3 separate regions of the Homo sapiens genome follow, and regions 1 and 3 are each linked to region 2. Evidence: fine-mapped expression QTL. A gene starts in region 2. Each other region holds a variant in brackets. All regions are shown on one strand. Distances are between the middles of the regions.

Evidence for each region.
Region 1: its variant is fine-mapped to the expression of UNC13B in thyroid (GTEx, PIP above 0.99).
Region 3: its variant is fine-mapped to the expression of UNC13B in whole blood (TOPMed, PIP 0.95).

What each region holds. Positions count from the first base shown.
Region 1 is chr9:35,265,142-35,275,707 of GRCh38, forward strand. The region is part of intron 7 of UNC13B (unc-13 homolog B); the gene reads left to right. Among named protein-coding and RNA genes, the nearest start is that of UNC13B, 110 kb to the left of the region's middle. The variant T/C (reference allele first, on the strand shown) is at 4,681.
Region 2 is chr9:35,155,686-35,166,251 of GRCh38, forward strand. UNC13B (unc-13 homolog B) reads left to right here and starts at 6,324. Exons shown (of 40, transcript NM_001371189.2): 1 at 6,324-6,620. The coding sequence starts at 6,599. It overlaps LOC124902147 (a long non-coding RNA gene), which reads right to left and starts at 749. Exons shown (of 2, transcript XR_007061469.1): 1 at 411-749. RefSeq lists an enhancer at 2,130-2,683 and a silencer at 6,190-6,319.
Region 3 is chr9:35,277,293-35,287,858 of GRCh38, forward strand. All of the region lies in intron 7 of UNC13B (unc-13 homolog B), which reads left to right. Among named protein-coding and RNA genes, the nearest start is that of UNC13B, 120 kb to the left of the region's middle. The variant A/G (reference allele first, on the strand shown) is at 4,009.

The sequences.
Region 1 (10,566 bases), 110 kb after region 2:
CTGGGGCAGAATTGTATGAACTTGATTGTGTCCCCTCCAAATTCATATGTTGAAGCCCTAGTCCCCAGTTTGACTGTATTTGGACATAGGACCTGTGAGGAAGTGATAAAAGTTAAATGAGGTCATAAGGATGGAGCCCTAATCTGACAGGGCTGGGGCCCATTTAAGAAGAAGAGACACCAGAGCTTGCTCTCTCCACCATGTGAGGACACAGCAAAAAGGTGACCATCTGCAAGCCAGGAAGAGACTGTTCACCAGAAACCAAACCTTATGGGAACATTGACCTTGGGCTTTCCAGCCTCAGACTGTGAGAAAATAAATTGTTGTTGTTTAAGCTCCCCAGCCTATGGTATTTTGTTATGGCAGCCTGAGCAGATGTATACACTATGTAAATGCATCTATACAATTATAAGAAAAATTACTAGGAAAAGAATGATCAAAATATTAACCAAATTTGTCTCTAGGATATGGGATTGTGGCCTTAAATTTTTTTTAATAGTTAAAAGTTATTATTGGCCAGGCACAGTGGCTCATGCTTGTAATTTCAGCATTTTGGGAGGCTGCAGCGGGAGGATGGCTTAAGGCTGAAGTTCAAGACTAGTCCAAGCAACATAGTGAGACCCCCATCTCTACAATTAAAAACAAAGTTATTATTAAGAAAAGTAATTGAGTTCTTGTTCATTCTTTTTCCTTTTTTTGCGATGGAGTCTCTCTCACTCTGTCACCCAGACTGGAGTGCAGTGACACGATCTTGGCTCACGGCAACCTCCGTCTCCCTGGTTCAAGTGATTCTCCTGCCTCAGCCTCCGAGTAGCTGGGACCACAGTCATGTGTCATCACACCCGGCTAATTTTTGTATTTTTGTTGGCCAGGCTGGTCTTGAACTCCTGACCTCAAGTGATCTGCCTGGCTTGGTCTCCAAAAGTGCTGGGATTATAGGCGTTGAGCCACCAAGCCCAGTTGAGTCCTTGTTCTTAACCTGGGTTTGCTGCTCTCTCTCTGTGACTTTGGAAGTCATCCCACTGTTAACTTCAGTTTCTTGAAGTAATAAATGGAGGTGGTGTTCTAGATGATCTCTAGGACTTTTCCAGCTGTAGCACATCATATGACTCTATTACTTCCTAGTCCTCAGATTCCTTCATGTGGATGGCCCCTCCACTACCCAGTGTGTTAGGATCAATCCTCTGCGGCCATTTATAAGATGTTTCCAAAGTATTTTCAGAAATCACTGGGCTACTGCTCTAAAGAAACTCTCCCTTTGATACAAGAGTTACTGTGGCTGGAAGTGGTGGCTCATGCCTGTAATCCCAGCACTTTGGGAGGCCAAGGCAGGAGAATCACTTGAGGCCAGCAGTTTGAAACCAGCCTGGGCAACATAGCGAGACCCTGTCTCTATTTAAAAATAAATAAGTTTAAAAAGTAAAAAAATAAAAGGAGTTACTCTAGCCCCAGTTATTTGGATATACTCTTAAAGGTGATGGGATTCTTTAAAAGTATTGAGGCAAACTATCTGCTTTTCCCCTTTGTCTCAGGTCAAGCCTTTCTCTTTTAGCATTCAGTAACAACATTCTGCATTCACTTTTATCCTGTGAAGTTTTTGTCTCATTTGGTAACTGATATATTTATTTTAAAATGTTGTAGGGTAATTATTGTGATTTATTATGTCCATCTGTTTTTTATCCCCCATTTTATTACCATTTCTAGCATTTAGGCTGACTTGTGCCCATTTCTTGAAAGAAAGGTAAGGCAGAGAGCAGAAGAAGTGATCTTTGTGGTTTTAACTTCCCAAAGCCTAAGATTTTAGGAGAGTATGCAAAGTGTTCTGGACAAATATTATGAGAGGGAGCAGAGTTTCACCTGAATCTCCCAATTTCTAAGAAGAGCTTCTTTTGACTTGAATGAGAGGAGAGAAATGCAAGAGAATGAGGAGAGAAAGAAAGAAAGTGACCAGGGGAGATACATTGGGACCTTGTGTCTGCTTTCTGTGTTAGGGCACTGGTGAAGCAGCAGGAGTCAAAGAGGGGATGGCTAGGTGTTGTGTCTTAGGCAGATGGACCATCACAAAGAGATTCCTATGCTCCAAGTTGCACTTGCTCCAAAATGAGTCTTGGGCTTTCTAGAAGTGGGAAAGTGAGCCTCTGGTCCTATTGGAACCACTTGGGCAGGAATAAGAAATGTCTCTCTCAGAAGTGTTCTCTGTGTCCGAGTGACTAAGGACTGGAGGAGACCTGGACTATCTTGATGAATGCCAGTTCACAAAGACACATCCATGCCATGGGCAGTCACTTCACTGCAGTGTCTTTTTAAAAATTATTATGCTTTAAGTTCTGGGTTACATGTGCAGAAACACTGCAGTATCTTATTCACATGCTGTGTCAGTATTCAGAGCAGTCTTCATGGGACAGGGGCAAGACTTAGGTTGAGACTGAAGGATGAATATGTCTTCTAAGAGTGATAACATTAGTTTTCCTAGGAGACATATTGATCTCTTTGTTGGTGGTTGTTGCCTCTCTGGCTGATATTGCTTGGTTGTTCCTGCCCTCTGAGGTGTAGGTGAGTGCTGGCTTTCTCAATGGGGTGCAGGTGTGAGTCTCCAAAGGTTACTTTTGGGGACTCCCTGGGGTCTTATGTGAGTGATTGCTCTGGTTCAACTTCTTTTGTCCTGCTATTGACTACTACCAAAAGATGTACTTAGCTTGTTGCTGCTGGTATCCTGTTACTTAGAGGCTTCTTGAATGGGGAAATATCAAGATAACTGGGACTCACCCACATTCCACAGAATTCACATGACCCATGGGAACTCAATTATTCTTGCCCTGAGAAACAAAGGATATAGGCAAGCAGTTCCATTCTCTTCTCTGTCTCCCAGCTCTGCCTCCTCTGTTCTTTTTGGCTGCTTAGAAAAGTACACAGTTCACATCAGCAAGTCTCCTGTCCAAGCAGACATCCAACCTGTCTGGCTCCACTCCCATTCTTGTAGGCATCCCTAACCTTTGTGAATTATGAAGCTCCTCCTCACTTGGATTCAGAGCAGAAAAACATTCGTTTTTCCCCTCCCCAGGAGGTGGAGAGGGGAAGGAGTGACCTCTCTTCACCAACAATTGCTCTCCCAAAGGTTGCTGGGTCCCACATTGACATAGACATTCTACAAGACAGCTGACAAGGATCTAGTTAAATTGTCTTAACAAAATTTCCTGGTTGGGCACAGTGGCTCACGCCTGTAATCCCAGCACTTTGGGAGGCTGAGGCAGGCAGATCATGAGGTCAAGAGATCGAGACCATCCTGGCTAACACAGTGAAACCCCATCTATACTAAAAATACAAAAAATTAGCCAGGTGTGGTGGCGGGCACCTGTAATCCTAGCTACTCGGGAGGCTGAGGCAGAAGAATTGCTTGAACCCGTGAGACGGAGGTTGCGGTGAGCCAAGATTGCACCACTGTACTCCAGCCTGGGCGACAGAGCGAGACTCTGTCTCGGAAAAAATTTCCTAAAATCTGGATTTGTCTGATTATTTCCTCGTAATTAGATTCAGGTTACTGCACAGCTGATGTCAATTTGTCCCTTTATTTGTGATGCTGATGTTAATTATTAGTTCAGATGATGTTTTCCAGATCTCTTTGTTGCAAAGATATTTTTCTCCTTTGTAACTAAGTGTGTAGTGGCAGTGATACTTTGAGACTGTGTGTATACTGCTTTTATTTAAATAAACTTCCATGCATTAGTTTTAGGATGTATTATGATCATTGCCTAAATTTATTATTACACTGTGGTTGCAAAATGATGATTTTCTAATTCTGTCATTCTTTTTTAAAAGGAAAAAATGGTTTCTCTATACTTGCACAATTCTGACACCAAGTATGTTTTCCATACCAAGCAATTCTCTGCTAACATCAACTGAGTGTCTCATGACTTAATTCTGACACTAGAGATGTGGAGTTAGTGCAGACCCTACAGGTTAAGGGCTCAGTCCCACAAGACTGCCTCCCACTTTAGAGACCAATCATAAATCCCAGGTTACTGCCTGAACTTCTGACCAACTGGCTATAAACTGGAGTTCCCACAAGCCCCTCCTCAGGTTCAATAATTTGCTAGGATGGCTCACAGAACCCAGGAAAACAGTTAATTTGGTATTACCGATTGATTAAAAGGATATTTTAAAGGATACAAACAAATAGCCAGATGAAATGATACATTGGAGGAAGTCCAGAAGGGTCTGAGCACAGGAACTTCTGTCCCTGTGGAGTTTTGGGTGCACTACTCTCCCTGTGGGTGCATTTTTGTTCACCAGTGTGGAAACTCTCTAAACCCCTTTGGCTGGGGTTTTCACGGACACATCATTATGTAAGTATGATTGGTTAAATCATTGATCATTGATGATTAATTGGCTCAACCTTCAGCCCCTCTTTTCTCCCTGGAGTTTGTGGGGTGGGACTGAAAGTTCTAACCCTCTAATCACAAAGTTGGTTCTTTTGGCAACTAGCCTCCATCCTCCAGGAGTTATCACATTAGCATTAACTCAGGTATGATTGAAAGGGGCTTACTATGAATAACAAAAGACAGTCTTATCCCTATCACTCAAGGAGTTAAAAGGGTTTTAGAAGCTCTGTGCCAAGAACTGCAGGCAGAGACCAAATATTTATTTCTTATTGTGTCACACTGTTATTATACTGAACAGTTG[T/C]CAGTCTTTTGTAAAGAAGAGCTTTCCTTCTTCGCATACCCCCACCCCTCTTTTAAAATGAGTATCACTATGGACACATGATTTTTTTTTTTGAACCCAGTGTTTTGTAATCCTGTTCTGCCATTTTCTTTGATGCTCAAATTGTCCTGAATTTGGCCTATGGGTGTTCCTTTTAACTAGATCCTGTGTCCTTTTGACATGGCCCTATCATTCTTTGACCACTTCCTTCCTTCCTTAGTACAAAATATTCCAAGCTCATCTTGTACTTTGCCTTCTCAGTCCTAGAATAAGTCATTTCTCCAATGAGGCTGGTTATTTTTAGTGGGGAATGGTATTTAAAAATCAAGATCTTGGCACTAGTTTTGCTCGTTGCTACAGGAGGGCTCTTGCTTCTTGGCTCTTTGGATGGAACTAGGGAACACACTATGTTCTTCATACTGGTATCACCAATTAACACCCTCATCACAAGGTTTTCCTGGTCTCCTTTCATATATTCTCTCTCTCTCTATGTATATATATGTGTGTGTGTGTGTGTGTGTGTATGTATGTGTTTGTGTATTATGCACATATATATACACATATATACACACATGTGTATATACACACACATATACATGTATATCTTCCAGTGAGAACCTCTGTTCCCAAGAACATCAAATTATTTATTCATTTGCTGTGTCCTGTAATGTACACAAACAAATTTTAGGATTAATATACCCAGTGCTATTATCAACAATAAGACAACAGTCTTTAAGATTCTTGAAAGTTTTTTTTTAACCTTAGAATATAAACTCACATAAGATTACAAAACCACCAGCACACCAAAAATTTAACAAAATTTTATAATGTCATCAGTATCTATCCTATATTCAAATATCCCCAGTTTTCCCCCAAACTTTCTTGTCCTTTTTGCACCATTGTAGAAGTTAATCAAGGTTCACACATTGCATTTGTATGTGGTGTGATTTGAGTGAAGATCGTCTTTTTGCATGTGGATTTCCAGTTGTCCTAAGACCATTTGTTAAAAAGGCATTTTCGGCCAGGCACGGTGGCTCATGCCTGTAATCCCAGCACTCTGGGAGGCCGAGGCAGGTGGATCACGAGGTCAGGAGATCGAGACCATCCTGGCCAACATGGTGAAACCCCATCTCTACTAAAAATACAAAAGTTAGCTGGGTGTGGTGGTGTACACCTGTAGTCTCAGCTACTCAGGAGGCTGAGACAGGAGAATGGCTTGAACCTGGGAGGTGGAGGTTTTAGTGAGCCGAGATTGCGCCACTGCACTCCAGCCTGGATGACAGAGTGAGACTCCATTTCAAAAAAAAAAAAAAAAAAAAGGACATTTCTCCCCCCATTAAATTGCCTCTGCATCTTTGTTAAAATCATTCTTACTACCACCACATGTTCCCATTACTTTCCTTCCTTTTAGCAGATTAGATTTTATATATTCACATTAGAAAGTGGATATACTTTCTTTTAGGATATGTTCTTCAGATGTGGCCTCAGCTGGGAGTTGGTAGCAGATGCCAGGAGACGCATGTGGCTTTTTGCATGCTTGAGCCTCAGTACATCATGTTTACTTTTGCAGGTCTTATTGCTCCTCAATTTATAGAGCTGTTCTGAGGCTGTGCAATCTGATTTGCATATTTGATACAAATCTTGCAACAAATGGTATCAGTATAATATAAACATTTAGCCACAAGGCTAAATGGTCAGAAGTTGAGCTAGAGGGATAAACTGGTCTGTTCCTTTTCCAAACATACCTAAAGTTTCTAAGGTATTTACACTTCACTCTTCAATAAGGATAATATTTCTACCTATATCTTGTCAAAGAATGTAGCAACACACCATGTTGCCATACCAGTCTGACTACTACTAAATTCAACAACTTTCTGCTCTTTTCAATTTTTATACATGTCTGCCTTGCCCACCCACTGTATTAATGACAGTATCACTGGCTACAATTGAGAATTGAATCAAAAGTGATTTAGCATGTGACGAAGGTTTGGTGAGATGACTACTTACATCAAAACCATCCTGGCCAACGTGGTGAAACTGCTAGGGTGTGTAAATTAGTACAACCTTTCTAACTCAGTGATTTTACTTCTAGGAAGTATTCAAGGAAAATAACTAGAGGTTCAAAGGAAGATTTATGTATAGGTTTTATTTATAATAGTGAAAAATTACAAAGAAAGGAAGAATGGATAATTATGGTATTTCCATATGATGGAATTGTATACTTTTACATAAATTTTTAAGATAGAGGAAATATTTATGTGTATAAGTTCTAAAAAATAGGATCCTAACCTGATTAAGATGATCTCAGTTATCTAAGAAATAAATTATATACATATGTACGTAGAAAAACCACAAGGAAATATAATTTTTTTGTTTTTTTTTTTGGTTGTTTCATTTTGTTTTTTTTGTTTTTTTTTGTTTTTGTTTTTTTTTTTTGAGATGGAGTCTCACTCTGTCGTCCAGGCTGGAGTGCAGTGGCAGAATCTTGGGTCACTGCAACCTTTGCCTCCTAGGTTCAAGCAATTCTCCTGCCTCAGCCTCTCGAGTAGCTGGGATTACAGGCACCTACCACCACACGTGGCTAATTTTTGTATTTTTAGTAGAGACAGGGTTTCACCATGTTGGCCAGGCTGGCCTCGAACTCCTGACCTCAAGTGATCTACCCACCTCGGCCTCCCAAAGTGTTGGGATTACAGGCGTGAGCCACCACGCCCGGCCTGTTTTATTTTTTCTTTATACTTTATTGTACTTTCCAGATTTCCTCCAAAGAACATGCATTTGTTTTATAATAATTTTAAAAGGGATAAATATTTTAAAATAACCCAAGCCTGACAATACAGAAGCAAGTTATTGTAGATTCACTTTTTTAGTTTGAATTTGAGACTTAGTTGAATGATAATTTATTGTTGAGATTGACATAGTTTAGTTCAACAATACCAGTGATTCCTTCACTGAAAATTCCACGTAGCTTTTAGAGTTGCAGTGTACCTTTTATTAATGATATCCCTAAAGCCTCCCTTAACTACTTACCGTGTCTGAAACAAAAAGCTTCTGGGGTCTATGTTATTTCTATATGTATTATGATCTAAAAGATAGCTTGAACTTTTGCTTGAGATATAGCCCACCTTGGAGTTTCAAAGAGATTTTTCTGGTTATCTATTAAGGGTTTGTTTCACTGGTTTTCTTACAGTATTGCCTATAATTAGTGATCTATACAAATCATAAACCAAAATGTCCTGAGTACGAATCATTCTTTTAAATTAGTAAAACGGCATAACCCAACATATTGTTTAAAAATTTTCTTGAAGAATGAATCAGTTCAGAACAGTTGGATGTGAGTCATATCATGAATAACAAGTGACCAAACATTCAGAAGCATTGTCAGTAATATACTGCTTAGTTGCTGGGTTGTGACAAATTATTTGACCACCACAAACTTCAGAAGAATTTCTTTTACCAGCATATCCAAAAGAGGCATGTTTAATAAAATTACTTACCTTTCCTCATTTTCAACTCTTACTGTCAAATGTCCTGGTCCTAGTGTCCATTGCGTTGATATTTGTTGATTCTTAGATGGCAAGCAGTAGGTTTTCAATGCTTTCCACTAGTTTTCAGCCATTAGACCTGATATTCATATTCCTAGTGTGCACCATATTCAAATACTCCTCTTATAGCCTCTTATTATTCTTGGTCTCCATCTAAAACTGTTCACTGCCACTCTATTACCTGTCTTATTTCTAATATTCTACCTGTTAGGGGAGGCAGAGAAATGGGTCATTCTGTATATGTAACTAGGTATTCCCCACTTGGACGATTAGGTTCCTGCCTGCTCTACAAGTGATGATGGTATAATCCCCAACTAAAATCAACCACAAAAAAAACGCTAGGCAGGTACTGCCAGTGCTTCTCTTAGTCTCATTTTCACACCTACCAGAAACAAGACTAGCTTTAGGCCTGTGGGCTGTGTTGGCCGCCTCTCAATGGAGGCTAGGACTTGCTTTCGTAGTTGGGTCTTATAGACTTTAAGTAGAACAGGAAATGTTGTCCACTCGTTTTTGGTCCAGGATACCTTTCTTTTATTCTGGACCCACCACAGCCAGAGGGAGCTGACCCAAGTGGCAATTACTGTGTCAAAGCTTGATCATGTAGAGTATGGGACTATCACTCCACCATTTCATGCCAGAGAACACCATCTTGAGAGGATCTAGTGCTTCCTGACCATCAGACCTAACTACCTCGCACAGCTCCAAGTAAAAAAGAAGCCTGGTTAGAAATCTGGATCTGTATTACTTATTTTCCGTATGACAGTAGCCACCATACTGATAACCCCTGCCTATCAGGAGATATATCTCTTAGAGAGCTTTGTGGCCTCGCACTCTCAACTAGTACTAGCATTCTTTTCTTTTCTTTTTTTGTAGAAATGGGGGTCTCACTATGTTGCCCAGGCTGGTCTCAAACTCCTGGCCTCAAGCTATCCTCTGCCTTAGCCTCCCAAACTGCTGTGATTACAGGTGTGAGCCACCACACCCAGTCAAGAATTTGCATGTCTTACAGATTCAAGAGCATATAGTAGATTAATCCATGTTCCTAATAATGCCTTAAAGAGAACCAGAATCTCTCACCATAATTGAATTTTGAAGGGACAGAACTCAGAAAATCTGTCCTCTGTATCCCCTTATAATGACATGTTCTTATTCTGTGGCAGGCCCTTTGAAGACATTAGGATGGCCTGCTAGGACTTCTGACAGCCTTCATAAAGAATGCCCCACAATGAAATTTGGGGGACAAATGCCAAAGATAATCCTGGGAGACCTGAGAGATTATTGAACTCTCTCCTGATGCCCAGGTTCCTCTGGGACATTGCTACCTTGGGTTTAATTATAAATGTATCCACTTCTTGAAGCCATAATATAATATGTATGCTGTTCACTTAAATTCAGGGCCCTGTGAGTGGGCTATTTAGTCCCTACACCAGCTGGCCTTTGGCTGCATCCAAATTGCAGTGCTCCCCCATAAAAGAGATGTCCAGCTCCATAACTTTCCCAATCATTTTTTGTCATACTGTGAAATCATACTTCAATAGATATCATGGGTTTGGAGCTTTTTGTTCAGTGTCCTCTAGGTTAAAATTCTGCACTCTCAAAGTCATTTGTGATTTAAAGTTGTAGAATGTATTGGTTTTCTTGTTAGTTTTGAATTCTTTTTTTTTCTTTTCTTTACCTTGGCTGGATAAAGTTATGAATTCTTGATGGCCACTTTGCATGGTATTGTGAAGAGCAGCTCAGAGTCTTTTTTTCTCCCAAGTCTCCCAACCAGTTATCTTTTTCTGCATCACTTGTTTCTAGGAAATGGGTAAACTAGAGTTAAAACTTTGGTCAGCTTGACTCAAATGTCTGTGTTCTTTCCGCTATACCACCACCCTGTGGTGGCAAAAATCTCATGGGATATAATTTGCCATTCAGAAATATGTGCTTTTCTTACGTGGCTACTGCCCTTTGTTTTAATTAAAATTAATTCATTTATTGAATAGGTAATATACTTTGTATAGGAGTTTTAAAATATTAAAGGGAGTATAGTAAAAAGTCTCCCTCCTGTTCCTATTCCCCAGCCACTTGGGTCTTCTCCCCAGAGGTAATCATCGTTAGCATTTTCTTGTGAATCATTCAAGAGGTTTTACTGCTGTTCGAATATACAGGTATATACATTAGAGAGATCTTTTGATTATTCTTTCCATCCTTTGAATTGGTTTTATTTACTCATTCATTTATTCTGAGATGGAGTCTCGCTTTGTTGCCCAGGTTGGAGCGTAGTGGTGTGATCTCGGCTCACTGTGACCTCCGCCTCCTGGGTTTAAGTGATTCCCCTTCC
Region 2 (10,566 bases):
GAGAAGGGGGAATGGAGGGCGGAATGTTGCCCATAGAAAGGTAGAGACACGGAGAAGTAGGGGGGTGGTGAGCAGCCCTGGACTACAATGTGGATGAGCAGCCAAAGCAGGCATCCCTGCAATTGACTTGCCACTAAGGGAATGTAGGTGAATGACCAAGGCAGGCGTCCCCACGGTGATCAGACACCAATGGAATGTGGGTGAATGATCAGGGCAGGCATCCCCACAATGATCAAACACCAAGGGAAGTCTGTTTTCTCAAGTCCGTGACCAGCGCTGGTGTTTTGGGTCCACAGATAAAATGTGTCTCCTTTGTCTCTACTAGAGAGGAAAATGAACTGGAATTGGAAGGACAGGGAGATTGAAGGGTAGCAAGAGAGGCTAGAGAAGAGAGTGAAAAGACCGCTTACCCGATTTGAAGTTGGTAAGGTATTCCTTGAGCTGGTCTGAGGACCCGAGGTCTTAGGTGGATCTCCTCATGGAGTGATGGTGAGGACAGGGGACCTGTCTTCCGAAGGAGTCTCCCTGTCCTGGGTCTTCGGCACCAAATGTCAAGTGCGTCCGTGTGAAGAGACCACCAAACAGGCTTTGTGTGAGCAATAAAGCTTTTTAATCACCTGGGTGCAGGCGGGGTGAGTCGGAAAAGAGAGTTAGCAAAGGGAGTTAGGGTTGGGGCAATTTTATAGGATTTGGGTAGGTAGTGGAAAATTACAGTCAAAGGGGGTTGTCCTCTTGCGGGCAGGGGTGGGGGTCACAAGGTGCTCAGTGGGGGAGCTTTTGAGACTCATTGTCCAGGAGAAGGAATTTCACAAGTTAATGTCATCAGTTAAGGCAGGAACTGGCCATTTTCACTTCTTTCGTGGTTCTTCAGCTTCCTCAGGTCTTCTGGATGTATAGGTGCAGGCTTGGGCTCAGAGGCCTGACACAAACAAAAATGTATGCTGGCAATTCCTAAGACATTTCTAACATTAATGTAACAATAATTTTAAACCTAGCTCAGTGAGGACTAAATTCTGATTTTATATCTTGCTCAAATTCCTGTGTAAGGGGTCTGGGGAGTCATGCGCTACAAATAATAAATTATTAGATGGTTTTTACTTAACCCTATATATTGTGACTTACTTTCCAACCTGACTGTGGCATAACATTATGAGACAAGGAAGCAAAACAAAATATTTTACCTTAAATCATGTTTCTTTGCCATCTATTGAAATGGCCTGCAAAGCTGTCCTTTGTGGGGTAAAATGTGCATATATAAAGAATCTCTATTAACATAGCTAAATCTTTTTCTTTCAGGCCCTCTCAATCCTAAAGAGATTAACTAAAAGTCTAGCACCCTTTGAAGATCTGAATTGGAAATATTTGTCATCTATTTTCTCTAAGGGCAGCCACTATAAGACTTCAAAAGAACCTTGGTCTCCACAGTGTTTTTTCTTAACCTAAATATTTCCTTTCTATGATCCCTGGTCTTTAGACAAACTCAACCAATTTTCAACCAGAAAATGTTTAAATTTACCTATAGTCTGGAAGCCCCCCTTTGAGTTGTTCCGTCTTTCTGGACCAAACCAATGTATTTCTTAAATGTATTTGATTGATGTCTCATGCCTCCCAAAAATTTATAAAACCAAGCTGCACCCCAACTACCTGGGGCTCATGTTCTCAAGACCTCCTGAGGGCTGTGTCATGGGCCATGGTTACTCATATTTGGCTTAGAATAAATCTCTTCAAATATTTTACAGAGTTTGATTTTTTTCATCAACATTAGTAAAGATTTTACTTAAGTTATGTAAACTTGAAAAAGCATTTGACTATTTTATTTTTTCCTGAATAAGTGTTTGATTTAAGCACTTTTATTTTCTTACGCCAATTAATTAGAGCTCTTTTATATATTTTCAGTAGTGAAACATTGTGTACACAACACATAAATACATAGACACATTAGGCATGCTGATAGAGGTACATCTTTTTTTTTTTTTTTTTGAGACAGAGTTTTTCTCTTGTCACCCAGGCTGGAGTGCAATGGCATGATCTCAGCTCACTGCAACTTCTACCCGCTGGGTTCAAGTGATACTTCTGCTTCGGCCTCCCGAGTAGCTGGGACTACAGGCATGTGCCACCACGCCTGGCTATTTTTGTATTTTTAGTAGAGACAGGTTTCACCATGTTGTCCAGGCTGGTCTCGAACTCTTGACCTTAGGTGATCTGCCCACCTCGGCCTCCCAGAGTGTTGGGATTACAGGCGTGAACCACTGCACCTGGCCTAGAGGTACCTCTTATAGATTCATAAAAAACGTTTTTTTTCCTTAGGCTTTCAGATTCTTTTTTTCCCCTCCTCCCTCCCCGCTACTTTCAGATTCTTGATAACCTGTTTCACAACCCTAGGCAGTTGTCAGCTAAATAGCCTTAAATTTGCATATTAAAGAAAACAACTCAGGTGAACTCCAAACAGCAAAATTTACATTATAAAGTGTGGAGAGAAAAAGTCTGGTGTGCTAGACGGAAATTGAAACAGATTTAATGGCCAATTAAACATAAAATTATAGAAATTATAAAAGCCTTTTAAATACACACACACACACATCCTATAGCTTTTACTTCAGAACTTTTAGCTATGAGATAAATTCAAATTTACCGGTTTGCAAAAAGAACTTGTTGGATCTAAACTGTGGTTTTTATCTTAACAGAAAATAATGGCAGATTTAGAGCAGGCAGAAAAGAATAGAGAAAAGAGGTCTTAGGAACTCTATAATTAGTAGGTCGACCTTAGGGCTCTTTTTTCTTAATGTAAATGTGCACAAAGACCATATTTTTTCCATTTTACATAAACTTTGGCAGTAGAGGTGCCATAAAACCTACAGAGTGCTCAAAAGAGGGTCATTCTCCTTGTTTTCTTCTCATTCTTAGATTATTTGTTTTCCACTTCTTTTTTTCTTAAAAGGAGAAACTGAGCTGTGGCTTAGAGTTTCTGTGTGGTGGATCATCACGTGCTGCTTGTGGGCAGGACTCCACAATGTGCCACCACTGAATGGTTTCCACCCTCTTACATGTCTCAGTTTCTCTCTCCAGAGGTTTATGACTTCTGAGAGGGCTCACAACACTGGGTGATCAGCCCTTCAATGTGTTTCCTGGATGAGCCAGTTTTTAAATTAAATATATATATATATATTTTTTTGAGACAAGGTCTTACTCTGTTGCCCCGGCTGGAGTGCAGTGGCATAATCTTGGTTCACTGCAACCTCCACTTTCTGGGTTCGGGCAATTCTTACGTCTCAGTCTCCTAAGCAACTGGGGTTACAGGCACGCACCACTACACCTGGCTAATTTTTGTATTATTAGTAGAGATGCGGTTTTGCTATGTTTGTCAGGCTTGGTCTTGAACTCATGACCTCAAGTGATCTGCCTGCCTCGGCCTCCTGAAATGCTAGGATTATGTGTGTGTGACCGCACCTGGCCTAAATTAATTTTTGTTGGGGATTTCCCTGCAGGACCACTGCACATCGTTCGGGGTCAACCTTTCAGACACTCCCACAAGGTCCCCAGTCACTCAGGGGCACCTTTCAGTTGGGAGGGGCAAATGCCCTTTCTTTTTGGAGCTGAGAAAACTCAGTCTCTGATATACCTATGAAAGCAACAGTTCAGTTCCTCATGCAAATGCACACAGACAAACGGAATTGAGATTAATGTTGGGAGAAAAAGCAATATAAAGGATCCTTCAGAACGGATCTCCAAACTAGAATTAGGATTTTTTTTTTTTTTTGAGATGGAGTCTCGCTCTGTCGCCCAGGCTGAGTGCAGTGGCACGATCTCGGCACAGTGCAACTTCCACCTCCCTGGTTCAAGCAATTGCCCTACCTCAGCCTTCGAATAGCTGGGATTACAGGTGCACACCACCAGGCCCGGCTAATCTTGAACTTGTGGGGTCAAGTGGTCCGCCCGCCTCAGCCTCCCAAAGTGCTGGGATTACAGGTGTGAACCACCGCACCTGGCCTAGAATTAGGATTCTTAAACAACGACTTCCTAGGAGAGAAAATTAAAAAAAAAAAAAAAAAAAAAAAAGGAAACAGCCAAAACCACTTCCTATAAACTGTGCTCAGCCACCCGTAACTTTGTAGCTCTTTTCCAACAATATACACACCAAGGTCAAATCCTCTCACAGTGCAAGGTCATCTCTGGCACCCAAAGCCAAAAAGGTCAGGTCATGCAATACAGGAAAACAGAGCTTTAGACCTAAGAAGAATCTGCCCATGACTCTTGAAATCCCACAAAGCCAAGAGAACACCCCAAAAGGGGGTGAGTGGCACCTTTGTTCTAAATTCTTTTTTTTTTTTTGAGATAGAGTCTTGCCCTGTCACCCAGGCTGGAGTGCAATGGCACGATCTCAGCTCACTGCAACCTCCGCCTCCCAGGTTCAAGTGATTCTCCTGCCTCTGCCTCCTGAGTAGCTGGGATTACAGGCACGTGCCACCATGCCTGGCTAACTTTTTTTGTATCTTTAGTCGAGACAGGGTTTCATCATGTTGGCGAGGCTGAGTCTCGAACTCCTGACCTCGTGATCCGCCCACCTCGGCCTCCCAAAGTGCTGGGATTACAGGCGTGAACCATGGCGCCCGGCCTAAATTCTTTAAAGAGGTTCAAGTCATTAGAAGCCTTCTCTCGATTTTTTGGTAATGCAGATGGCAAAGGGTGAAGGAGGTATAGGGTGGAAGAAAAGTAAACAAAAGAACAATTGAATTTTTTTTTTTTTTTTTTTTAATTTGAGACAGAGTCTCACACTGTAGCTCAGGCTGGAGTGCAATGGCTCGATCTCCACTCACTGCAACCTGCGCCTCCTGGTTCAAGCAATTCTCCTGCCTCAGCCTCCCGAGTAGCTGGGATTACAGGCACCCGCCACCATGCCCGGCTAATTTTTTTTGTATTTTCAGTAGAGACAGGGTTTCACTATGTTGGCCAGGCTGGCCTTGAACTCCTGACCTCGTGATCCGCCCGCCTCGGCCTCCCAAAGTGCTAGGATTACAGGTGTGAGCCACCGCGCCCGGCCTAAGAACAGTTTAATTTTTAAGACCAGGAAGCAAACACAGAAACCAAATACATGGTTTTTTGTTTTCTGTTTGTTTTTTCTTTTGCAGCTGTGAGGAATTTTACTCAAATTAGATAGGCCTTGTTACCCATAATTTGGAATTCTCACTTGGATTTGACCAAGTGAAGTAGAGTTGGTCAATGGGAAAAAGACAAACAAAATAAAAAAAAACCCAACAATATGATCACTGAGCACTCTAATGGTAAGCAGAAATTAAGACCAGCTGGTTGTTAACTTTAGCCAAGACAAAAATCCCTATTCAGCTACTTACCTAGGGGTGCGTCTCAGGCTGAAAACGGCTGTCTACCATCCCAGAAGTAGGAAAAAAACCCCTCATCTTCCCTGTTGGAAGTGAGCTCAAACTCCATAAAAGAGTTACCTGCCTTCCCTCGTCATGGAAGCAGGAAAACTTGCCTTCCTTGTTGGAAGCAAGTAAAACTCCAAAATAATAATAATAATAATAATAATAATAATAATAATAGAGGGAGTTGTACAACAAAATGAACTTTAGATCTCGACCAAATTTTGGGAGATCAGGGATTCTCTGGAGGGGGTGCTCCTAGACCTTAGCAAATTGTCCTGTTGGTTTGAGCCATGGAGTTAGCTCATGTTGGTACCAAGCATGGATAGGAGATTTGTCAAAGATCAGAGGTATCTCCACTCACAATCCCTCCGTGGTTACCATCCTTCATTCAGTAAATATTTACGGACTGATTACCATACACTAGGCACTATTCCAGACATTGGAGATACAATGATGAGCATAAAAAACGGTCTAGATAAGAACTGAGGTCTCCAGACATACTTTATGCCCACTCAGTTTTGTCTTTTGCCCTAGTTGCTAAACAAAACTTAACTTTGCTGTGCGGTGCGACTTCGTTAACTTAAAATTACAGGCTGTCAGCTATGACCGCTAGACTCTAAGAAAGTCCAGTGGAAATCCTTCAATGAAAAGAATCTGTTCTTGGGTGGAAGCCCCGCTCATGCAGGAGGAACAGAGGGCTTCCATTCTCGCGTCACACAACTGAGGGTCAACCCCTTGCTCCCTGCAGTAAGCCTGATTAGTGGGCGGAGCTTCCTTCAGGATCGCAAGAAAGAAAGGAGGAAGGGGACCCCGCCTCCTACGTGCTCGCGGGGGGGGGCGGGGTCGGTGGACTGGGCGTGAGTTAATTGGCTGGGGGGCGGGGCACCACGGGTTGGCTCCGCCCAGGCGCTCGCGCGGATCCCGGGTGGAATGACGGGAGGGAGTCCCGGCAGCTCCTACCTCCCAGCGATGGCGTCGCTGTGCCGCGCCCAGTCCCCAGCCTGCCGGCCGGTACTCACCGCTACCCGGAGTTCGCTCAGACGGTGAGATTTGGGGCGGGTCCGAGGCAGCGGCGGGACGCTACCTGCGACCGGGACCATGAGGAGCTGCCAGACCCGTGGGGCCGGTAACGAGAGCAGTCGCGGCACCTGCTGAGAGGAAAGAGGGAGCGGTCCGGCGCGGCTGGGGCGCGGCAGAGGCTTGCCCGATCCTCGGCCATGTCACTGCTCTGCGTGCGCGGTGAGTGCGCGGACTGAGGCGGGGAGGCGGGGTGTCGGCGTAGAGGTCCCCGCACCCTTCCAGTGGACGTCCGGTGACCGTCTCACCCAAACTTTACATCCCGTCCGTGCTTTGGGGGTCTATTATTTTGGCAATCACTTAACAATCACTTGAGTTCTTTCCACTTTCTTGTTTTCCCCCAAGCTCCTGCAAGGGACGATTAGCTCTCCATTCTGGTAGCCATGTGACAATGTTGTTGGACTGCAGGCTCAGATCCTATTAAACAGTGACTGGGGTTCTCTAGTGAGAGTGGACGAGTTAGAAGACCGCGGATGGTTGGTGCCTGTGAATGGTGGGCAGCCTCTCATTCTTTTCCTCCTCCTCGCACCGTAACGCTACAGTATGCTTAGTAGCAGGTTCTTTTTATCACACTTTGAATGCGTTAGTGGTACAGCTGTCACATCCCTTCTATTGCTTGTCTTGTCCCCTGCCACTTCCCTGAACACTAACCGGTAGTATAGGCTAAGATTATTCTTCTGTTCCACTTGGGAGGATGTGGTGACTGCTTTTGAGGATAAGAGGTATGATTTATTTTTATTTTTATTTTAGCTTGCCTCACAGTAACTCAAGGTGAAGGGCCATTATTGCTTTTCCCCTGAGGACACTTGACCCATCTAAGAAGATATCTTAAAGCAAGAGCTTTGGGGTTTAAGATGAGGCATGGTACGCGAACTAAGTTCTATGTGGGTAGAGACTGTTTCTTATTAGTTTTTGTATTCCTGGTGTCTGACGTAGTAGAAGCTTAATGCTGGTTTTGAATGAATGCAAGTACTGTGACTTCAGAGAGATTATCTGATCAGGAAAACACAGGGTTTGGATTAGCCATTGAATTTGATCTCGGGAAATTCAGGTTACAGCCTATCATATCTGATGTGTCTTGATTATGAATGAGAGAGCATTTATCAACTAGAGCCTTTACCTGATATCTTTTACTGGAGAGTTCATATTTCTTTTGGCTCTACAGATTAGAAGCATTGTTGTTGTTTGTGATTTCTCCAATAACGATGTTTCCCCCAGCTACTGGCAGATGAAACTGCTTTGCTCTGTTCTCTTCCACTATTTTGTTGAATCTGCATTAACCAAAATGGATTTGGCCATTTCCCGGGATTATGAGATATACAGTTTTTCTTCTTTCATGGTTGATTTTTCATTAATGAGAATTTTGCTTTGCTTTTAGTAAGACATTTTCTCTCAGCAGCTGGGAATCTATTTATTCCTTTAGATCCCTGCTGCTGAGTAGCAGGATTTGGGAGAGGTTGGACTTTGCTGTGTCTCTTGGACAGTTTAATTCTCTACGGCCACACTGTATTACAGAGCTGGTCCTTATGAAAGACTCTTTAGGCAGGAGCACTCGTGAATCAGAAATTCCTATTTAACTGAATTTATATAACTACTGGTGTTTTCATTTGTTTTAATAGCAGGCAGGTTTCATTGTCTAGAAATTCTGCTATTTAGCTAACTTCTTTCCTTTTTAATGTTACTTTAGTGAAGTTTCTTCTTTTTTGAATCTGGAGAAACGAGATCAGCAGGCCATTGTCTTTTTGAATAGAGATCTAGAAGATTTTAAATACTGAAACAAACAGGTACCTTATATGCAGATATTCATATTGAATGGCAAAGTATTCATTTTGGGAAAACTTACAGAAATGAATTGAAATACATCTTTATTTTTATTTCTTTTTCTTTTTTTGAGACAGAGTCTCATTCTGTCACCCAGGCTGGAGTGCAGTGCTGCGATCTTGGCTCACTGCAACCTCCACCTCCTGGGTTCAAGTGATTCTCATGCCTCAGCCTCCCGAGCAGCTGGAATTACAGGAGTGAACCACCAGGCCCGGCTAATTTTTGTATTTTTTGTAGAGACAGAGTTTCACTGTGTTGGCTAGGCTGGTCTTGAACTTCTGACCTCAAGTGATCCATCTGCCTTGGCCTTCCAAAGTGCTGGGATTAGAGGCATAATCCACTGCACCCAGCACAAAATACATCTTTCTAAAATGACATTCCTTGCGTTGTATTTTGGCAGTAGGAATGTTGTATTCTGAAAGCAGTCTATATAGTGATATTTATTACAACTCAATTTCAATTCATCTTGGAGTAGAATCAATTAGAAACTTCCTATGCAGAGTTCAAAAAGTAGTTAACTTGATGTAGAAATTGGCAAACTGGTATTGAATTAATCATTCCTAAACATTTCATTCAAGAAGTCAGTTATTTTGTCTTGCCCTTTAATCATGCCTTATTGCCTGCAGGTTTAAGGCTCTCAATACTCTGACTCCAGACTTGTGGCCTTCTATTCTTGCCTATCCTTATGCAGACTTTGCTCTAGCACTAACTTTGTTTATTCCTGCCTCTGCTCTGTTCTGCACTTGTGCCCCCTGAAATACTCGTTCCATATTTTCTGCCTATCTAAAATGTATTCTTACTTTCCCAGCTAACAGTCTACTTTTTTTGTTGTTGAAAACTTCTTCAGGTCCCCAGTCCACAGTGATCTCTTTTTCCTTTAAATCCTCGGAGCACTTGTGGTCTGAACAGTGCCACTAGTTTGGAAATGAATCATATGCTGCCTGCAACTGGTCTTGTATTGTGGTGCTTATGGTGACCCAGACAAAGGAAGTAATTGCACTGGTCAGATCAGATCTGGAATTTTGTGTTCAGCTGTGGTATTTCCTTCTAAGAAGCATATTGAGAAGCTAGGTTATCTTAAGAGGGGAGTGATTAGAATAATGAAACATGTAGGAACCGAACCATTTGAAGAATATGGGAAATTTAGTTGTAGAAGATTTAAGAGGAAGAGGATCACGATAGTACATGAAGACTGTTTAAAAAACTGTCTTGTAGAAGTTATGTCACCTTTTTTGTTGTCATTCCAGAGGACAGAACTGGGACAAGTGTGGATCAGTGGTTGAAAATGACAGGAAATTAGATTTTAGCTTAACATAAAGAAGAACAGTTGGGTTGTTCAGAACAAATGGAATGGGCTATGTAGATTTTTTGACACTAAACAGAAATTGAATGAGTGGTAAGGATTCTAAAGGGGATATTGACCATTCAGCGGGTGATTGACTTGAATTTTTTTTTTTTTTTTTTTTTAATTTTTTGAGATGGAGTCTCTGTTGCCCAGGCTGGAGTGCAGTGGCATGATCTCAGCTCACTGCAACTTCTGCCTCCCAGGTTCAAGCGATTCTCCTGCCTTAGCCTCTGGGGTAGCTGGGATTACAGGCGCCTGCCACCATGCCTGGCTAATTTTTTGTATTTTTAGTAGAGACGGGGTTTCACCATGTTGGCCAGGCTGGTCTCAAACTCCTGACCTCGTGATCTGCCCACCTCGGCCTCCCAAAGTGCTGGGATTACAGGCGTGAGCCACTGCGCCCGGCCTAGACTTGAATTTTTAAGAAACCACTCTTTTATAGAATTCACTTAGTCTTTCTTTAAATATTTCCATAAGTATAAAGAAATATAAGTCTTTAACATGTTTTGGCACAGCTTTACTTATAATACGGATACTTTTTTTGGGCTTCCATAGGGACCAGTGCCACATGAACAACTGCAGTAAACTAAATTAAGGATTTTGTTTGACTTTTATTGTCTTGGTATTCACGACCAAGTTTCTCCAAGCAATTATAAGCATTTTTAGAATCAGACCTTTCCATAATATTTCTCTGTAATTCCCAGTGTTTATAACATAGTTATTCCCAGTGTTTATAACATAGTTAGATAATTTAACTATGGATTTTTTTCCCCCAAAAGTAATAAATGCAGGCCAGTCGTGGTGGCTCTTGCCTGTAATCCCAGCACTTTGGAAGGCTGAGACAGGTGGATCACTTGAGGACATGAGTTTGAGACCAGCCTGGCCAACGTGGTGAAACCCCATCTCTACTAAAAATACAAAAATTAGCCAGGTGTGGTGGTG
Region 3 (10,566 bases), 120 kb after region 2:
AGCTTGTAGATTGCTAGAAAGCTTCTGTAATTGTGACTACTAGACTCATATTCAGGCGATTGAGACATGAGTTTGGCAATAGCTAAAGCTTTGTTGGCTATATTGTAAGGTAATTTATAAGCATTAGAATGCTCAGGGGTATCCCTAGTAGAAATGACATTGAAGCAGATGCCAGACAGAGAACTGTCATACTTTTCCTAATTTTTCCTGTGAAGCTTTGAGACTTCAGCATTACAGAAAAGAAATCCAGAGCCCTGAAGTACAAAGGAGCTTATCCATTATAGAGCTTTTCATTTTCTCCTTTGCAAAGGCTTTTATATTTTCTCGGGGGGTTCTTGTTCTTAGTGAGTAGCTATGTAAACCAGGGAGTATATTTGCAGAGGCTAGGAAAGAATTAATGGGAGAATGCAAAAACAATCAAAAGATCTGAATCACAACCTAGACTCAAGTCCGAAGAGGTAAATATACAAAGACAGCAACTTGAATATGTAATTTATAATTACATATTCACATTGTGTACACAGTAATACCATGGAAAGTACCCTCAATGGGTACACAGTAATACCATGGAAAGTACCCTCAATGGGTACACAGTAATACCATGGAAAGAAGGAAAGTCCCGAGGTGGCAAAGGAATAAATAAATGGTTAAGAATGGCATAAAGTTTGTTCAAGAAGGCTTTCCAGAAACATATGTTTAGAAATTACTTTTGAAAGAACTAATCGAGATGTGTTCATTGAAATGAGAGATTGTTCACAGTAGTATAAATGAAAAGAATGAGGAGAGGATTACAAAGATGCAGGACACACTGGCTTAGAGTACAGTGATGTCATAGTTGTACTTGCTAATCTGCCAGAGGAAATGAATCCTCTTGTTGTTGTTGGCCTTCAAAAAGCCAAGATGTACAGGGCTCGCCCAGTTTGGCAGATTCATTTCTTTGGGAGCCTTTTCTTTCTTTTACTCCAGATACGTAGAGTCCTCATTATCATCTATCACCTTCTCTCTGTTTAAATGTGTCGTAGAATTGAAAGTTTTGAGCCGCTTAAGATTTTGGTGGCTAAAATTTTGTTGCTGTGATGGAAGACCTGTTTCTGTGAACACTGGAAGCAGAAGAGCCTTATGATTACTTTTTACTTATTTACCCAGGACCACATGCCCTGCAGGAAAATAGGATTGCATGACCAGCTGGCCTCCACTCTGCAGATTCATCCACTTCTTCAATGTCCTCTATTTCTCCTTCTCATTTTTAAAATCCCAGAAGGCATAGGTCCCCAGGTCATATACTTCTTTTGCCACCTTCTTCTACCTTTTTGCCACTTTTTTTTTTTGTCTGAGCCTTCTATATTGGCTCTTGCATTAAAGCATCCTAATCATTCTGGAGTTCCATAGGTAGCTGATTCTTGTTTATCTTATAAGTAGGATATTTTCCCCATTTTATTTTATTTTTTGAAAGGAAACATGTGCATAAGGTACAAAATTCGATGTAAAAATGTATGCTATGAAAAACAGCTTTTTTTCTGTACCCTGTCCTTTAGCCATACAGTTTCTACCCAGAGGTAACCACTACTGCCATTTACTGTGGATTTCTCTAGAAAGAGTTTATGCATTCACAAACATATAAATATATATTCCCCCACCCCCATGAATGGTAGTATGCTATGAACTGTGTTTAGTGTCTTGCTTTTTATCATATAATATGTATGACTACATGTAGGGAACAGGTTCATAATAATGGACATTTTAAAAATTGAGGTGAAACTCATGTAGCATAAAATAAACCATTTTAAATATATAATTTAGTGACATTTAGTACATTCATAAATTGTAGAACCATTACCTGTCTAGTTCCAAAACATTTTTATCCCCCTCAAAGGAGACCTCATACCCATTAAACGGTCACTCTCCATTCTCTCCACCCCTCACCGCTGGCAACCACTGATCTACTTTCTGTCTCTATGGATTTACCCATTCTCGATATTTCACATAAATGGAATCATATAGTATTAGGCCTTTTGTGACTGGTTTATTTAGCAGCATAATGTTTTTGAGGTGCATTCACCATTGTGGCATGTATCAGTCCTTTATCCCATCTTATGGCTGAATACTAATTCATTGTACAGATATACCATATTTTGTTTATCCATTCATAGTTGATGAAATATGTTTTTTTTTAAACCACTTTTGGCTATTGTGAATAGTGCTGCTATGAACAACAGTGTACAAGTATTTGAATAGCTGTTTTCAGTTCTTTTGGGTATATACTAGGATTAGAATGGCTATTAATGTACATTTAAGTTGCTTCCAGTATTTGCAGTTACAATACTGAAATTGATATTTTATATACATAATTTTATACATGTGTGAATATATCTGTTGGATGAATAGCTAAAAGTGCGATTGCTGGGCCAAAGCATTGTACATTTAACAATGCATTTGAATTTTGAAATATGTTACAGAATTGCCCACTATGGAGGCTGTACTATTTATATTCCCACTTACAAAGTATGAGAGTGCTTCATCTTTCCTTAGCTTTTAGGAATAGTCACCCTTCCTACAAAATTATATTGCAGAGATGGCACACTGAGGATAGCCATAGGCAAACAGTTCCTGTGCCATGATTCACTGAGTCTCCTTTCTGCTTGCCTGCTTATCCTGTCTTTTTCTCCTCTACCATCTGGGCCGTCTGATTTTCTGATTCCCCAAAAAGAGGTCTTGATAACTGGGCCTTTTGTTTAGTGTCCTGGTCAAAGTTCTTCCTCTGGTTTAACTTCTGTCTTTCTGCTTACATGTTAATTTTGGGTAATCCTTTGATTTCATTTTCAATAATAATATTGTGGAAGTAGAGAGGAAAGTGCTGAGGTGACAGAAGAAGAAGCAAATGGTTGAGAATGGTATAAAGTTTGTTCAGGAAGGCATTCTAGAAAAGATGAGTTTCGAGATGACTTTTGAAGAAGTTATTTGCAATGTAAAGTTTGAAAGGAGAGATTATTCCTAGTAGGATAAATGAAAAGTAGGAAGAAAGGGTTCAAAAGGTAACATACTCCATCTCACCCCACTCCCCATGTCCTGGTCAAGGTATCTCTTACTGGCTGGAACATTCTTTTTCCTATTACCTTATCCCATTGGGGAGTGGGAAGTAAAGGATCAGACAGGGTATAGCTTCTGGTACCTCCAGTCTAGGACTAAGACTCTGAGAGACACGAAAATATACTAGTTATGGACTCCTTAGAGTGAGTGCACAGGGAGTATTATTTTAGTGGTAAGGCAGTGCAATGGGTCTAGGACTGTCAGTAAGGGTGGGTGATGAGTTTTACACTAGATATGTGGTATCAGTGGAAGCAGCTGATATTGATGCTAATTATAGGTGCTGGCAAACTAAAAAGAAAAGAGAGAAACTATTACAATATGGTTTGGCTGATAAAAATAATGTTAATTGTAGTCTTCTGACTCATTTATTTATTTCTATCCTGGCTTCCTCTAAAAAGAAATTTGAGGTGGTTAATTGCAGTCATTACATCAACTTATTATAATTTATGTTCAGTTACAATTATACACAATTAACCATGTTAAAAATGTCAGATTAATGTATCAAAGTTTCATTTGCTAGCAACACTTAGGTGTCTATGCTGAGTACAGTGTGTGTTGTATATGCATAAAGGTCAGTTATTACCATAAAAGCGTGGTCATCTGATGGCTTCTTGTTATAGGTTTCATTGGGAGGCTGAGGCGGGTGGATCACGAGGTCAGGAGATCGAGACCATCCTGACCAACATGGTGAAACCCTGTCTCTACTAAAAAATACAAAAAATTAGCTGGGCGTGGTGGCATGCGCCTGTAGTCCCAGCTACTCAGGAGGCTGAGGCAGGGGAATTGCTTGAACCTGGGAGACGGAGGTTGCAGTGAGCCGAGATCACGCCACTGCACTCCAGCCTGGTGACAGAGCAAGACTCTATCTCAAAAAAAAAAAAAAAAAATTAGCTGGGCATGGTGGCACTTTCCTGTAATCGC[A/G]GCTACTCGAGAGGCAGAGGTAGGAGAATTGCTTGAACGCTAGGGGCAGATGTTGCAGTGAGCTGAGATCACACCACTGCACTCGAGCCTGGGAGTGAGAGACTGTCTCAAAAAAAAAAAAAAGAGAGAGAGAGGAATGAAAGTCCCTGACCTCAGGGAGCTCAAGTCCAGAGAGGAAGAAACATAAGTAGTACCATTTGATAAGTGAATGGGAACGTAAGTACTTGATATTCAAGGAATACAGAGAAAGAGAATGTAATACAAATTTGGGATGGTTAGGAACTGCTTCCCAGAGGAAATGATATCTCAAACAAAGTCTGTAGTTTACGTTATGGTTCTCTCTTTGTATTGTACATTCTATGGATTTTGACAAATGTGTGATGACACATATCCACCCTTATAGTATAGAATAGTTACGCTGCCCTAAAAATCTTCTGTAGTTTACCTATTCATTTCTACCTCTCCCCAGATCCTTGGCATAAATTGAGTCTTAAAGGATGAGTAGCAGACAGTTAAGTGAAGAAGGAGAAAAGAGTTCATAGTACAAGGACACTAAGATGAAAAAGCATGACTTAAGGTACCTTGGGGTACTGCAAGTTGAAAATTCTTGATGGCTTCGGTGGAGGGAATAAGAAGAGTGGGGAAGGGTCAGATGAGGCCAGAGAGACACAGAGAACTCATATCACAAAGGGCTTGAATGCCATAGCAAGCTGTTTATATTTTATCTTGAAGGCAAGGGGGAACCTTTGATGACTTTATGCAGAGGAATGAAACAATTAGATAGCAGTGATTATAGTGATGTGAGCAGTTTGCTGCATTAAAAATCTTTTTAATGGTAGAATATAACACAGATATATAGACAACTTTATAAAACAAATGTTTAAATGTATTAGTATAAGGTAGGTAAAAGATAGACCTTTGCCAACCACCCCAGAAAGCCTCCATATGCCTCTTCCCAATCACAACCCCCTCTTCCCTAAAAGTACCTACTATCCCAACTTTTATAATAATTACTCTCTTCTTGTTCTTTATATGTTGTCACCCAAGTATGTATCTTTAAACACTAGAGTTTGTTTTTGCTTGTTTTCTTGTTTTCTCTTTTTGATATGTCTTACAATTTTTTTTGTTTGTTTTGTTTTGTTTTGTTTTTGGGATAGTCTCACTCTGTCACCCAGGCTGGAGTGCAGTGGCTGTGATCTCGGCTCACTGCAACCTCTGCCTCCTGGGATCAAGAGATTCTCCTGCTTTAGCCTCCTGAGTAGCTAGGACTACAGGCACATGCCACCACACCCGGATAATTTTTTTTGTATTTTTAGTAGAGATGGGATTTCACCATGTTGGCCAGGCTGGTCTCGAACTCCTGACCTCAGGTGATCTGCCTGCCTCAGTCTCCCAAAGTGATGGGATTACAGGTGTGAGCCACCATGCCTGATCATGTCTTACAATTATTTTTTATTCTATGGGTTCCCCCTCCGTCTCTTGCTTTTTTTTCCTTACAATTTGTTTATTGAAGAAATCAGGCCATTTGACTATATGGTTTTGTTTGACTTACAGAGTTTTTTACATTCCCGATTTTGCTCAAAACATTCCTATAAGTTTAGCTTAACACACTCTTCTGTCCTTTGTATTTCCTGTAAATTGTAGTTGCACATTGAAGATTGATGATATTGATGCCAGGCATATTCCATAGTTTGAGTATACTATAATTTAAAATTTTTTCCCCAATTTGTAGACATTTGGATTGTTCCCCAGTTTTTGCTGCTAAAACACAATACTATAGTGAGCAACTTTATACACTTTTTTTTGTAAACATGTTCAAATGAATCTCCCATCCTCTATTACACAGTATGTATTTTTCCTCTATGGCACTTTCTCAGTTTGTATGATTATTTGATTAATATTTGTTCCCTTCTTTAGGCCATACATTTCATGAGTATACCCATTGTTCATAGGTATTTTCCTTTGATTTATTAATATGCTTATCTGTGTATCCATAGTACCTTTGCCCAATAAATATTAGTTGAATAAATGCATTTCTATAAGTGGAATCATTGGGTTAAAGAATATATACATTTATAATTTTGTTAGACACTATCAAATTGTATAAAAATATTTTACCTATTTATATTTCTGCTGCTGGTACTTATTTTCACATTTAGCCTCACTGGCCCACTCAACAACACCGTGCCCCCCACCCACCTCTTCACCCCCTCTCCTCTTTTCCTTTTGTTACTTTCTTCTACAAACATTTTTTTGACACTTACATTCCAGGTTTTGTTCTAGGTGTTTAGGATATATCAGAGAGCAAAACAAAGATCCTGGGTGGGAAGAAATAGACAATTAACATAATAAGGAAATAATATAGGATGTTAGAGAGTGAACCAATAAAAGAGTGAAAGGCAGTTGGTAATGCTAGAATTGGAGTTGAGTTGCAATTTTAAATAAAATTCTGAGTATTGGCCACATGAGAAGGTGACATTTCAATAGAGTTGAAATAGGTGAGGGAATTAACGTGGCTCTCTGGGGAAAGAGTGTGATAGGCAGCGTGAACAGCTAGTTCAAAAGCTGGTAGCTACTGAAAAGGAGTAGGAAGAGTTTTGCTGGGTCCTGGGAATGCTGTTTCTTGATCTGTGTGCTGGTTACCTGAGTGTGTTCACAGTATTCATTGAGCAGTACAGGCCGGGCGTGGTGTTTCACGCCTGTAATCCCAGAACTTTGGGAGGCTGAGGCCGGGGGATCACTTGAGGTCAGGAGTTTGAGACAAGCCTGGCCAACATGGTGAAATCCCATCTCTACTAAAAATACAAAAATTAGCCAGGCGTGGTGGCATGCGACTGTAGCCTGTAGTCCAGCTACTTGGGAGGCTGAGGCAGGAGAATTGCCTGAACCCGGGAGGCAGAGGTTACAGTGAGCTGAGATCATGTCACTGCACTCCAGCCTGGTTGACAGAGCAAGATTCTGTTTCAAAAAAACCAAAAAAACAAAAACGTTGAGCAGTACGGTTATGATTTGTATATTTTTCTCTATCTTATACTTCAGTAGAGCTTGCATATTTAAAAATATTAGTGGATGTTGAACATTTCAAAATGCATTAATAGTACTTAACCAATTCATGGATATTTTTCTTTGACTTATTAATATAATGAATGCATTAATCAGTTTCTATTAATAAATCATCTTTGCCTTTCTAAAATATAACCTACTTGGTTATGGTGAATTATTCTTTTACTATAATGCTAGGCTTGATTTGCTTGTATTTCATTTTGGATTTTTCTATCTATATCACAAGTAACGTTGGTGAATAGTTTTTTGTTATTCTCCTATGTTAGATTTGAAGTGTTTTCCTTAATTATAGGTTCTTTACTACTGTCTTCCGTAGAAAGAGAAGTTCTACAGTACTTACCGAATCAACTGTCTAGAAAAAGGGAAGAGAATAATTTCTAGTGTTTGAGTTTATGGTCCTTATGAGATACCTGGTAATTACTACAATTTAGTAGTTGATAGGTGAGTTCCTGTCATTGCCTAGACAGATGGCTGTTCACATGGAGTCTGGGGCTTAAGTATTCCATCATTTTAATGTCATGGAAACATTAGCCAGTACTGGACTACTAATGGGTGGTGTAACAGTTGCCTGGGGGTGTTTTGTTTGATAATTGTAGACCTTACTTTTTAATGTGACTATTTCTGATTTCTTACATTTTCCACTAGAAACAAGATAAAATGTGCAGAAGAAGCAGCCTGTGAGTGTGTTGCTGTAGCCTAGTCAGCCAGCCTAGGGGATGGGGATAAGTGCAGAGGTTTACCTTCTAGGAAAGAGGATGTACTTTCGTCTTAGAACTGCTAGAATTTTTTCACTGTATGATGACATTGAACTTTTCTTCAGGCTCAGTAGGATAGTGGGTCTGGCTGCCTTCTTCCTCCATTAGCACAGGAGTATTATTCTTCTGTCTGGGAGACTGTGGCTTTTTCATATAGGAAATTCTATAGCTGTGTTTTTCGCAATGTAATTCAAGAATCATTGGCATGAGAGTCACCAAGTTTCTTGTTGAAAAGCCCTTTGAATTAGAATCTCTGTGAGTAGAGTTTAAAATTTACATTCTAAACAAGAGCCTCAAGTAATTATTAAAATTAAAAGATGGCCAGGCACATGGTTCACTCCTGTAATCCCAGCACTTTGGGAGCCTGAGGCAGGTGGATTGCTTGAGCTTGGGAGTTTGAGACCAGCCTGGGCAACATGGTGAGACCCCATCTCTACAGAAAACAAAAATTAGTCGAGTGTGATGGCACGTGCCTGTAGTCCCAGCTTCTCAGGAGGCTAGGGTAGGAGGATTGGTTGAGGCAGCAATGAGCCATGATTGTCACTGCACTCCAGCATGGGTGACAGGGCAAGACCTGGTTTCTAAAAACAAATTTTTAAAAAGTCCAGTCAAATATCTGTAATAATTCAGAATAATTCTGTAATCTCTAATAATTCATAAGGTAATAAGTTTCTTGATAAGGATAGTTAAATCTTCAAGGAAAGCACAAAAGGAAGGAGATTTCAGCAGAATTAACTACTAAGTTTGTTGACTGATTGGACATGGGAAATAAAGAGGAATTTTAAGAATGGTCCTGTGGTTTCTGATTTCAAAGTATTGGGAGTTTGGTGGTTTTGGACATGAGGTGTACTTGCTATACTCCCGTATTTCTAGAGAATTTTTAACACTGTAAATACAATGCCATTACCACTGGGGGCTGTGATACTGTGATTTTATAATAAGAAACATATATTTTGGTCTTTGTCCCTGGTTCCTGACACAGAGCTCCTAATCTCTTAGAATTTTATGGATACTAGGAATGTCTGTTGTTCTAATGAGGGACTCTTGATGGGCTTCCACATAGGAACCAGTTATCAGACAGACCAAGCCATGTTTGGAAGCTTGGAACTTTTTTTTTTTTTTTTTTTTTTTGAGATGGAGTTTCACTCTGTCACCCAGGCTGGAGTGCAGTGGCTGTGATCTTGGCTCACTGCAACCTCCACCTCCCAAGTTCAAGTGATTCTCCTGCCTTAGCCTCCCAAGTAGCTGGGATTACAGGTGCCTGCCACCATGCTTGGCTAATTTTTGTATTTTTAGTAGAGAAGAGGTTTCACTATGTTGGCCAGGCTGGTCTCGAACTCCTGACCTCAAATGATCCACCCACCTTGGCCTCCCAAGAAGCCTGGAAATTTTAGCCCCATTCCCTTTCCTTCAGGAAAGGGAGAGGAACTGGAGATTGAGTTAATAATTGATCATGCCAGGTCAGGCACAGTGGCTCCTGTCTGTAATCCCAGCACTTTGGGAGGCTGAAGCAGTAGGATGACTCCAGAAGCTTGAGACCAGCCTGGACAACATAGTGAGGCCCTGTTTCTACAAAAAAATAATACCACTAATACTACTTATAATAGATTGTGTCTATATGATAAAGCCTCCATAAAAATCCCAAAACTGTGGATTTTTGGAGCCTCTGTGTTGGCAAACACATCCGTGTGCTGGGAGGGTGGTGCATCGCAAATCCACAGGGCAGAAGCTCCTGTGCCCAGGACTCTTCCAGACCTTGTTCTGTGTATTTCTTCATGTGGCTGTTCAACTATGTCCTTTGTAATATCCTCTACCGTAGACGGGTAAACATAAGTAAAATGTTTCGTTGAATTCTGTGAGTTGTCCTGCCTCAGCCTCCCATGTAGCTGGGACCACAAGCCTGCACCACCATGCCCAGCTAACTTTTTGGTTTTGCCTGTTTTTGAACTTGTTATAAGTTATCATAAATTATCTTTCCTTTAGAGTTAGTTTCATTTCTTTTTCTTTCTTTCTTTCTTTCTTTTTTTTTTTTGAGTTGGAGTCTTAATCTGTTGCCTAGGCTGGAGTGCATTGGCATGATCACGGCTCACTGCAACAACCAGCTCCTGGGTTCAAGTGATTCTCCTGCCTCAGTCTCCCGAGTAGCTGGGATTACAGGTGCCCATCGCCATGCCTGGCTAATTTTTGTATTTTTAGTAGAGACAGGTTTCACCATGTTGGCCAGGCTAGTCTCGAACTCCTGACCTCAGGTGATCTGCCCACCTCAACCTCCCAAAGTGCTGGGATTACAGGCAAGAGCCACCATGCCCGACTTCACTGTGCATTCTCGCTAACAATGTACAAGAGTTCCAGTTGCTCCACAGCCTCACTGACGCTTTGGATTGTCAATTGTTCCTCTTCCTCCTCCTCCTTCTCTTCCTCTTTTTCTTCTTCTTTTTAAAATTTCTGTCTGCTTTTTAAATGTGATTGTTCCTTAGGGTTCCCCCACTTCATATAGTCTTTTTTTCTTGGCCTGCACTCTGCCTTAGTGTTTTTATTTACTTGCATTTTTATTTATACTCATTTGTAAATATTGGTTGAACTTTTACATTGTGCCATGCATTATCAGGTGCTGAGGATACAGCAAAAGAACAAAGCAGAAAAATCCCTGCCCTTATTGGAACATATAGTCTGAAAACTTCCAAGTCTGTTCCACATCTCTTTCCTGAGCTCCACACCCGTATATCTGGCTGTCTACTGG